Regions from separate parts of the Homo sapiens genome. Here region 1 is linked to region 2. Evidence: fine-mapped expression QTL. A gene starts in region 2. The other region holds a variant in brackets. All regions are shown on one strand. Distances are between the middles of the regions.

What was found. PIP is the estimated chance that this variant, and not a neighbour inherited with it, causes the effect.
Region 1: its variant is the best candidate, but not a certain one, in a credible set for the expression of CRADD in monocytes after interferon gamma (Fairfax 2014, PIP 0.63).

The regions. Positions count from the first base shown.
Region 1 is chr12:93,835,296-93,840,680 of GRCh38, reverse strand. All of the region lies in intron 2 of CRADD (CARD and death domain containing adaptor protein), which reads right to left. Among named protein-coding and RNA genes, the nearest start is that of CRADD-AS1, 100 kb to the right of the region's middle. The variant C/G (reference allele first, on the strand shown) is at 3,175.
Region 2 is chr12:93,674,708-93,680,092 of GRCh38, reverse strand. CRADD (CARD and death domain containing adaptor protein) reads right to left here and starts at 2,718. Exons shown (of 3, transcript NM_003805.5): 1 at 2,621-2,718; 2 at 1,021-1,324. The coding sequence starts at 1,318. RefSeq lists enhancers at 216-1,030, 1,847-2,661, 2,634-2,873, 2,662-3,477.

The sequences.
Region 1 (5,385 bases), 160 kb before region 2:
GCTGGAGAATCGCTTGGACCCAGGAAGCAGAGGTTGTGGTGAGCCGAGATTGAGCCATTGCACTCCAGCCTGGGCAACAAGAGTGAAACTCCATCTCAAAAAAAGAAGAAAAAAAAAAAAGAAATTAGTTAGTTATAAATAATAAGCATTTCTAGGGAAGAGATAAAACTAACATTATTTTCAGACAATATGACCTAATACATAGAAAAATATCAGGATTAGCAGATAATCTATTAGAGTAAGAGGACTGAGCAAAATTGCCAGATACAAGATCAACTTAAAGCAAAAAACTACAAAGCAGCATTTCAACACTCTTACAATAATCAAATACAAAACATAATAAAAATACAATAAGCAATGAGAAGGATAAAGGATCTATGAAGTTAATAAAGACTGTATAAGACCTTCATGGGGAAAATTTTAAGCCTTTATTAAAAGACATAAAGCAAGATCTGACTAAAAGGAGAGTCCCTGTTGTGCTAGATGGGATGACATTGTTATAATATAAAGATGCCAATTCCTATTGTGACAATTAAAATTCCATAATGGGGAAAGAAGAGGCTTTCCCCAAACTGAGGAGAACTAGCTAATTACAGAGGAAAAGAAAACTGGCCTAGAGCATCACACCATGAACAGTGGTGGATCCCATGGAGATAAAGTCCCAAAGGTAAAAGGTAAAACTATAAAGTTCATGGAAAATAAGGCAGGAGTATCTTTATGGCCTGTGGTCAGAAGTGGTTTTTAAAATTAATCTCCCAAAGGTAAATTTTTTATATCAAAATTACGGATTTCTGCTCAATGAAGGAGACGTGATCCAAGCTGATGTCTAAGACCAAGGCTAATGTCTAAGACCAATAAGGGAAACACTATCTAGGCTGGGTAAGGTGTTTCTGAAAACCAACAGCAAAGGTAAGAACCTCCACAGGAAACAGAACAAAGGTATGAACAGGTGATTCGAATTAGAGGAAACACAAAAGCGAGCACATAAAGAGATGCTCAAATGCAGAAATTTAAGAAACAAATGTAAACAACAATGATAAAGCACTTTATATGTATAGAAATCTAGACAATACCAAGCTTAGGCTGGGACGTGATGTAGAGAACGTTGTTCACCGCCAATGGAAATAAAGATCGGACAGTCGTACTGGCCAGCAAGTTGGCAGTGTGGGTAAAATTGAATGTACTTTCCAATCTTGTTCTGTTAGACGTACCCAAGAAAAGTTCTAAAAAAGACCTGTAAGGGACATGTATTAGGTTGTTTGTGTAAAGCTTCGTTATTTGTGCTAGCAAATACACGTATATCTTATAATCCAGAAACCCTCTTTTGGGAGATATAGATATAGGTATAGATATCTCCATCTCAGGAAAATTCCTACACAGATCCATGAGGGGTCACTATGAGGTTGTTTATATGAGGTAATACTGTCGGAAGAAAGGAGTTGGAAGCAATCTAAAAGCTCATTGCTGGGGGAAGAGATATAGAAATACAAAACAGCACATAGGGAATACTGGCAGAGTTAGAGGGGATGGACTAAATGCAGTGGAGAGCAAAAAATGTAAGGAAAAGAATCAGGTCTATACAAATGCAAATTAAGAATATATGTCCAGGCCGGGCACCCATGGATCACGCCTGTAATCCCAACACTTTGGGAGGTCGAGGCGGGTGGATCGTTTGAGCTCAGGAGTTCAAGGCTAGCCTGGGAAATGTGGCAAAACTCCATCTCTACAAAAAAAAAAATTAATACAAAAAATTAGCCAGGTGTGGTGGTGCACACCTGTAGTCCCAGGTGCTCGGTGGGGAGGCTGAGGTGGGAAGATCACCTGAGCCAGGGAGGTCAAGGCTGCAGTGAACCCTGATTGTGTCACTGATCGAACTTCAGCTTGGGTGAAAGAGCCAGACTCTGTCTCAAAAAACAAAAAAGAATGTATGTCCAAAACACCACTTACAAAAACACACACAAATAAAGGAATACATATCAGTCAGAATAGTTATCCTTATCTATGAGAGGGAGGGGGAACAAGAGTGAGTATATGAATGGAAAAGGAAGAAGCTTTTCACAGACCAATTAGTGAAGTAGACCATAAACTGATGAGCGCAAAGGAAAAAAAAAAAAAAGAGAGAGAAAGAGAGAAGCAAGGGAGGAAGGGAAGGAAGGAGGGAGGGAGAGAGTGAGAGAGGGAAGGTCAAGAGTCACTCTGAACCCAGCTGTCTCACGGTACCCCTGGGGCTGACAACATCCAGTTTCTCTGTAGCTAATGTGAGTGGAGTGAGTGGAGTGAGTAGAGTGGTGGAGTGGAGGAGGTCAGGGGTAGGGCGGGGCTGTTCCAGGCTGGAAAAACTAACCTGATCAGCCACCTCCCAGGACTCATGAATTAACCCTGGTCCCTGAGTACAAAGGCTCTGCAGAAAAATCCCTTTGGCTGAGAGACTGACTGCCTGGAAAAAGAAAAAAAAAAAAAAAAAAACCTCAAAAGGAAAACTAATTAGAACCCCTTGTTCTGCTTGTTCTGATAGATAATCACAGAGAACAATTTGGTCCTCACAGAGAGATGGAGAAATCATGTTTAGTCTTTCTAAAACCGATTTCCAGGATGATTAAGTGAAACCCACTCCAAAGAACAAGGTTATGTTGCAAAATACAAATAAATCCCATTTATTGTAATGGAAGACTTGATTTGACTATCGAGTCCATGGAAGGTCAACAATAAAACTGTTAGCAATAATTGAGCTCGCACTGAATTAAAAGGTGGGTGGTAGGGTGGACACAGCTCTGGGCTAAGAATTAGGAAGCCTGGGTAGTATAAATTTGAATCTGCTACTACCTAGCCGTATAGCTTGGGATAAGTCATTTGGCCTCTCTTAGACTGCTTTCTTCTTTGTAAAAGGTAAAACCAGATGACTTCTAAGGCTTTATTTCAATAAAACATATTATCTTTTTTAGAAGTGATTTTGTTATTTTCAACAGATCTTATGATTTTTGACTTCTCATTAAATCAAACCATTTATTGTTGTATCACTTTTCTTTACACATTTTCTAAGATAGAAACAACCCTCGTGGGCCTTTAGTAATGATTTTTGCTTATTTGTTTCTGCCTTTTAAAGATCACACATGGAAACCGCCCGGTGGCTCATGCCTGTAATCCCAGCACTTTGGGAGGCCGAGGCGGGTGGAT[C/G]ACCTGAGGTCGGGAGTTTGAGACCAACCTGGCCAACATGGTGAAAACCTGTCTCTATTAAAAATACAAAAATTAGCTGGGCGTGGTGATGCACGTCTGTAATCCCAGCTACCCGTGAGGTTGAGGCAGGAGAATTGCTTGATCTCAGGAGGTGGAGGTTGCAGTGTGCAGATCGCACCACTGCACTCCAGTCTGCGCGACACAGCGAGACTCCCTCTAAAAAAAAAAACAAAAACAAACAAACAAACAAACAAACAAAAACGTGAAATGAATATCTGGTACAGTAAATTTTCAAAACAGTAAAAACAATTAATGTTACAGTTTGCTGGGCCATTCATTTCTCTCACATGGACCAGACACAGCTCCACCAATTTGTCATTCATCCGGTTCCTTGAACACAGCAGCCAGCTGCGAACCAGAGAGCCTTGCACGAGCTGTTCCCTTTCCCTGGGACACTCTTTCACTGACCCCTTCACCAAATATAACTTCTCAGGGCAGCTGCCCTGACTGCCCTATTCCAAACTGCAACTCCCATTCCACTGTCATTCCCTTTGTCCATAAATCACCTTGTAACGTGTGATATATTTTATAGATGTGCTGTATTTACTGTCGCTGCCTGCCCCCAACCCTACACACTCATGCCTGCTGGAATGTAAGTGTCTCGCAGGCAGGGGAGCTTTGTCCATCCTGCTCAGTGATGTACTCCAGGCACCCAGGGTAGTGCCTTGCACATAGTAGGCACTCACTACATATTTGCTGGATGAGTGAATGAATGAAAAGGAATGATTCATTACAATGATAACATACTCACTTAGCTTTATTCTCTATAGCTACAGTATTACCAAGTGCTTCTACTTTTAATTTACTTTGTATTTAAAACCAGAGAAATTACATTGCATAATCTGAGGGTGAACAGAAAATTAAAAAGAGAGGAAACTCCATAATGGTAAAATATTGTCAAGGTTAGATGTGGGCTGTTACCTCTTTTTATGCCAAACTGGGCTACAATGAACTCCCCTTTCCCACATCCATGTTTCATTTGAAAAGAGAAAGACAGGCAAGCCCCAAGAAGGCTTCTGGGTAAATATGGCAGAGTGAGGCCTGACCCCAGAGTCTCCATCCCCTAACACCTAAGGGAATGAAGAAAAGGTAATAAAATAAAAATGAAGCCCATCAAAAAAGATGGCAGAGCCACTTTCCAATTCCTACCTTCCTGAAGCTCTATCAATTATTCACCCAAACTCAACTCTAAGAGATTCACTCTACTATCCCCAAATCTAAAGAGGAAAAAATTAAGTGGGTTTCTTACATTTTTTTCTCCTCTAATTTCAGCAGAGTGGAGATGGTAACTGCTACATGAAGCGACAGGAGATAAAAAATGTGGACAACGAGAACTAACTGTCCCTGGCAGAATGAGAAGACATTCTGCATGTTCTCAGGAGAGATTGCACAGCACAGGCATTATAGGGTGGCCTACGCGTAAACAACTTGGTGAGCTCACTTTCCTGCCCTGCTCTTTTGCTTACATGTGCCTATAGCCTGAAGAAAAGTGAACAGGACAGGAAATACCTGGTCCTCAAGGGGTAATACACAGGGGTCAGAAGGGTGTCAAGGAGAAATCACCCCAGTGGATCAGAGCCCCAAAGGCCACAGTCACCCAAACATATGCAAGATGGAATGAAACAGCATGGCAAGTGAGTAACATATCAGAGTAACACATGAATTAAAAATAGAGCATTATGTGGAAGAAAATGGGCCAAAACCAAAAATCTACAATCTCCAAGGAATAAACTAATAAGTGAGAAACACCAAGGAATAGAATTAACATGGCTCAAAATTATTTATATCCTAGGAAGCCTTCAGGTCATCAAGATAAAAGGCAAAACTTACAGAGAAAAATGATAGACATAGAGGAGAAAAAATATAATCCATCAGAAAGATTAATGAGTATTCCTGAAGTAGAGAACCCAGGCCAAAGTGTTTAAAGATCCAATACAAGAAAATATCCCTAAAATGAGCAAGCAACAGAGCTCTAAGTCAAAAGAGCATACTTCGTTTTTACAAAAAATGAATATGAAACAATTAACTGAAACATGTACCCTGGTTCAATAATTAAATTTCCAGTTCCAAGAAATAATTCTTCAAGCAGAACAAGCCAAGTTGCCTACAATGAGGGGAAAGTCAGTCATTGTTTTCAAAAGTATTTTAAAT
Region 2 (5,385 bases):
CTACAAGCCAGGCTAACAGAACCAGAACTGTTTCTCTCTTCTCCAGCTTCCAATTCTCCTTCAAATTAAACTGAGACCCTCCCCAAACTATTGCTCTTTGCAAAATTAAATACTCCAGTGTCTGAACAAAGCTAAACTAAAAAGGACACTTTAAACGAATAACCTTTAAAAACAAACTAAGTCAGCCTTCAAAATAATCCCCTTTGGCCACACAGGACAGCCCAGGGGACAGGTGCAGGGCATGCCTTCCTAGAGGCTGTCTCCTCCTCCATGAATCTGACCTTTTCCAGCTGGTAGCTCTGGCACCTCACAAATCAGTTGTCAGTAGGCCGAATGCCTGCTTTCCCATCTGCACTTTCCAAATGGCTCCTGATGCCAACGGCTGAGATATGACCTGGCTCTCTGATGAGAACATGCTTCCCAAGTGACATGCCAGGTTTCCTGGAAGCATTTCTAAATGCATTCTCTGAGCTCCCTCCCTCACCTCCCAGTCACGGTTCATTCTTCCTTCCCTGCACTTCCTAATGCCACCTCCTGATCCTATTCCTCCAACGTCATGTCCCTTCAGTCCCAAATCCTTACCCACTTTCATCAACCATTGACCCTTGTCCTGCCTTACATCCCAACTTCAAATCCAAAGGGCATAGTTCTGGCTAGGTGTGGTGGCTCACGTCTGTAATCCCAGCACTTTGGGAGGCGGAGGTGGGTGGATCACCTGAGGTACGGAGTTCGAGACCAGCCTGGCCAACATGATGAAACCCCATCTCTACTAAAAATACAAAACTTAGCAGGGCATGGTGGCAAATGCCTGTATTCCCAGCAACTCGGGAGGCTGAAGCAAGTGAATTGCTTGAACCCAGGAAGCAGAGGTTGCAGTGAGCCGAGATCACACCATTGCACTCCAGCCTGGGCAACAGAGCAAGACTCTGTCTCAAAAACAAACAAACAAATAAACAAAAAAGCAAAGAGCATAGTTACAACATTTTGGAGCTGGTTCAAAGTGATCTTTCTGAGGCCTACCTGCAGGCAGGTCGGTCATGGCCTCTTCCCTTGCCTTCTTCAGCTTCTCCCTGACCCAGGGAAACTCCTGTAGGGAATCTAGGAATGTATCAAATGCTTTAGGGCCCCTGGAAGGTAGGATATCCAGCAGGAGCATTGTTTTCCGGAGGCCTGTGGTTTGAGCATTGATTTCTTGAATATGGTTTTCCGTCAAGATTCCTTCCTGGTAGAGGTACTGAAGAACCAGTCCCTCCACCAATACCTCTGCACCCAGCTCCAGGCGAAGTGAGCGGAGTACTTGTTTGTCTCTGGCCTCCATTTCTCCCTGGAAAGAGCCAAAATCACAGCTCAAATTACAGACATGTTGATGTGGCCCTAAAGACAGTGTCACTGCAATGTAAGTTCCTTCAGGTCAAGCACATCTTTAAACCATAGCAGACTGCCAGGTCATGGTATTTAATTCACTGATTAAGCCAAGCCAGGTTAATTTTGAATGTTTCCTAACATAATGAACAACAATGAAGATGAATCATCTTTTCTGTTTCTGCTTTTCACACAATGGGGTCCCAGCTCAATTCCTCGTTCAATAAAGAAATTTGGAAAAAGAAAAAAAAAAAGTGGGTCAGAGACCCTTCTGAACAAGCAATTTTTATCTGAAGATTACAGAGCAGCACTAATTTTAACACGCTGGAGAAGAAATGGTGGTTTTATTTTCACATTGCCCTCATCAGACCTGCACCACCACCACCAAGGCAGAAACTGCCAAGGTGGACGCAGGTCCCCTTTTTTTGATCACAAGTATTTGCAAAACCTGATCAGTAATAGGAGTGCAGGACAGAAATCAGCAGGTTCAGAATTTAAGGCTCTTTTCGCTAAAAGTCCTCTACACGATCACCTTTAAGAAAATTGTTGTTTGTGCCCAGTCTACAATAAACTTTACACAATATACAGTCACAGACTCCATTCCTTCCCACTAAGAATTCCGAATCTCCAGCACAACACTGTCGTGGCCGCACATGCATGGGACATTTTATGGGATTTTTTTCTTTCAAAAAAAGCACACACCCCAGCACTGGTCAGTAGCCAGGCACGATTTGAAGGTGCAGTTCCACCACCCCTGCACCAGTGTGCTGTGGCTTGGTTGTGTGTAAGGCAGTGAAGGTTAAGTGACCGGGAAGGCAGGCAGGGATGACAGATGGGGCTTCAGACACACCCGGGCAGTACGACCACGGCTAGGCGACACCCGATCCCACACTCCCCCTCGCAACCCTGTAAAGTTCAGGAGGTGACAGGTGAGGAGGGGAGGTGTTCACGTTTGGCCGTGAGCGCCCATTGGGAACTATTTAAAAAGGCTCTGCTTCGGCCGCTGAAACCCTTGTATCAAACAGGAAGACTACGGGCGGTTTCTGCGGCAACTTGACCCGCTAAAGAGGGAGTGCTGGGAATGAACTAAAGAGCGGACCAAGGGGAGAGCGGGCCTCCGGCACTGCCGCAGCCACCCAGCCTTGGCCCGGATCGGAAATGCGGAGCAAGTTAGCGGGGCGGGGAAGCCCCCGCAGGGCCCAGGTCGCAGACGCTACAATGCAGGACTTTCAAAGAAAGATGGATTCCTGTTACTTACGTCTGCAACCACGTATCTTTGGGGCGGGGGAGAAAAACTGCAACCGGAATCCTGACTGTTAGGGAACCTGCCCCATAAGCACCATCTTTGTTAATGGCGAAAACCCTAAACAGGAAGTGTTGACACCATCTTTGTTGAGGGCAAGTACAGGAAGTGCTGTCGCCATTTTTATTGAGCGTTCAAGGGTCGGATCGAAGCTCTTCCCGCCATGCTTACTGTGGGTAAACAATTCAATAGCGGGGAGATGGACAACCGTAGTGTCACTTAAAGGGTATCTAAGTAATGGAGTAATTGAATCATTGCATTTTAACACAGTAACTCCATCAGGGCCTCGCACACAATTGACCTAACAGAGAGGCAGGTCAAAAGCCACCCTAGTAGAGAAGCCTTCTCTGACCTATCTGATTAAAACGGCAAGACAGCTGCGCTCATTTCCTGCACTCCCCATTAACCAGCTTTATTTTTTACGCATCACCATCTTATTAAAACTTTTCACTTATTCATTTGTTTATCCTTCTGCTTCCCTCCATTAAAATGCAAGGTCATTTATTTATATCAAGGGTTCCTGCCCGCAAAGAGTTTACAAATCTGTCAGTCAGGATTTCATTGCAGCACTCAGCTAGTTACTCCTAGTCAGAAAGGGATTCGTTAGGGGGAATTGGGGACATTCGAAATCATTGGAAAGGCTGGAGAAGGGCTGAGCTGAACATCCATGGATGACTACCTAGATAAGATTGCTGATTGTGGCTGCTGCCCACAATCAGGAAGATGGCGTCAGGAAGTTGCCATGCCTGGTCCCCAACCTCCTCTCAACACCGACAGAACAATTAACAGGACACTGGAACAGTGCTGCAAAAAACGGTGGTCTCCACGGCTGCATTTGCCAGCAGCAAGAAAACAGCACCTGCAAATCTTGCTTTGCTGCGTGCCATTGGTGAGACCAATCTGACATGCAGAATATTAGCAGCAAGGATGTCTAGAGCATGTAGTTGGTAGCTTTCCAGCTTGTGAAACACAAAAAGGTATAGTAAATGAGGGAAGGCCTGACACTTAAAGCCAATCTACTGCATCCACCACATTTTCAATGTGGAAAGCAAGAAAAAATGCATGACCCAAATACAGAGAAACACAGCAATGCCAAATTGGGTGTCCTTCCTCACATTCCTTTGTGAAGCGAGGCAGGCGATCAATAAATACATTCATTGATTCATTTTTAAATCAATTGGATGATACATACAGAAAGTCATATGCTTACTAAAAATCAGTTGACAGTACAGGGGGAAAAAACTCCTAAAATATTATTTCTGCAAAGGTTTTCACAGCCAAACCCTTTGGTGGAAAATGAAAATATCTTTGTTAAGCAAATCAATGGAGAACAGTTCTGAACCTCCCTCCTCAAAACCTTCTAAAAATTGTATTCAATTTACAGCATTACTATGCCAGTTACCATTTTACTACACCGTTAATGACAGTATTTTTACCTATGTGGCAAGTATTATTATTATTACAGTCATGCATTGCATAACAATATTTGGGTCAATGACAGACTGCATATATGATGGTGGTCAGAGCAATAGGCTATGCTATATGGCCTAAGTATGTAGTAGGCTATACCATCTAGGTTTGCATAAGTACATCCTATTTTGTTTGCACAATGACACATTTTTCACAATGTATCTCCACTGTTACAACTGTTTTAGCATTTGCATGTATAAAGACTGTGGAATCAGAATGGTCAATTGTCTTAGGCAAAATCTCACAGCTAATATAGAGCAAAACTTGAAGTCTAATGAAGTTTCTCTGATTTCATGCTCTTTCCAATACACCATACAACCTTGTATAGTGAAGAGTTTATTGTTCTAATGATAGCCAAATATTATTTGCAAATCATCCTGTTGCCACCTCCCATTCTTGATACTCTTGAGTTCCAGGTGCTCTCTTTTCTCTCTCCCTTTTCCCCTTTTGCTTGAGAATCATTGTCCTTTCCTCAGCAAGATTTCCCATCTGTTCATAGACAAATGTTAGCACCATTCTTTGTCTTCATCCAGATAAAGTGCAGACCACTTGCAACACTGCCAAGCGTTGAAGTTTACAGGTTAAACATCCCTAATACAAAAATTTGAAATCCAGAATCCTCCAAAACCTGCCTGAGAGTGGTGGCTGACACCTGTAATCTCAGCATTTTGGGAAGCCAAGGCAGGCAGATCGTTTGAGCCCAGGAGTTCAGGGCCAGCCTGGGCAACATAGGGAAATCCCATCTCTACAAAAAATACAAAAAATTAGCCAGCCATGCTTGTGTACGCCTGTAGTCCCAGCTTCTCAGGAGGCTGAGGTGGAGAATCAATTGAACCCGGGAGGTGGAGTTTGCAGTGAAACAAGATCATGCCACTGCACTCCGGCCTGGGCGACAGAGAGAGACCCTGTCTCAGAAAAAAAAAAAAAAAGAAAGAAAAAGAAATGCTCCAAAACCTGAAGCTTTTTGGGTGTCAACATGACGCCACAAGTGGAAAATTCCACACCTGACCTTATGTGATGGGTCTCAGTCAAAACACAAACCTTTGTTTCATGTGCAAAATTATTTAAAATATTGTATAAAGTTACTTTCAGGCTATGTGTATAAAAAGTATATATGAAACATAAGTTTTGTGCTTAAACTTGGGTCCCATCCCCAAGTTACCTCATTATGTATATGCAAATATTCCAAAATCCCAAAAAATCCAAAATCCAAAACACTTCTGGTCCCAAGCATGTTGGGTAAGGGATCA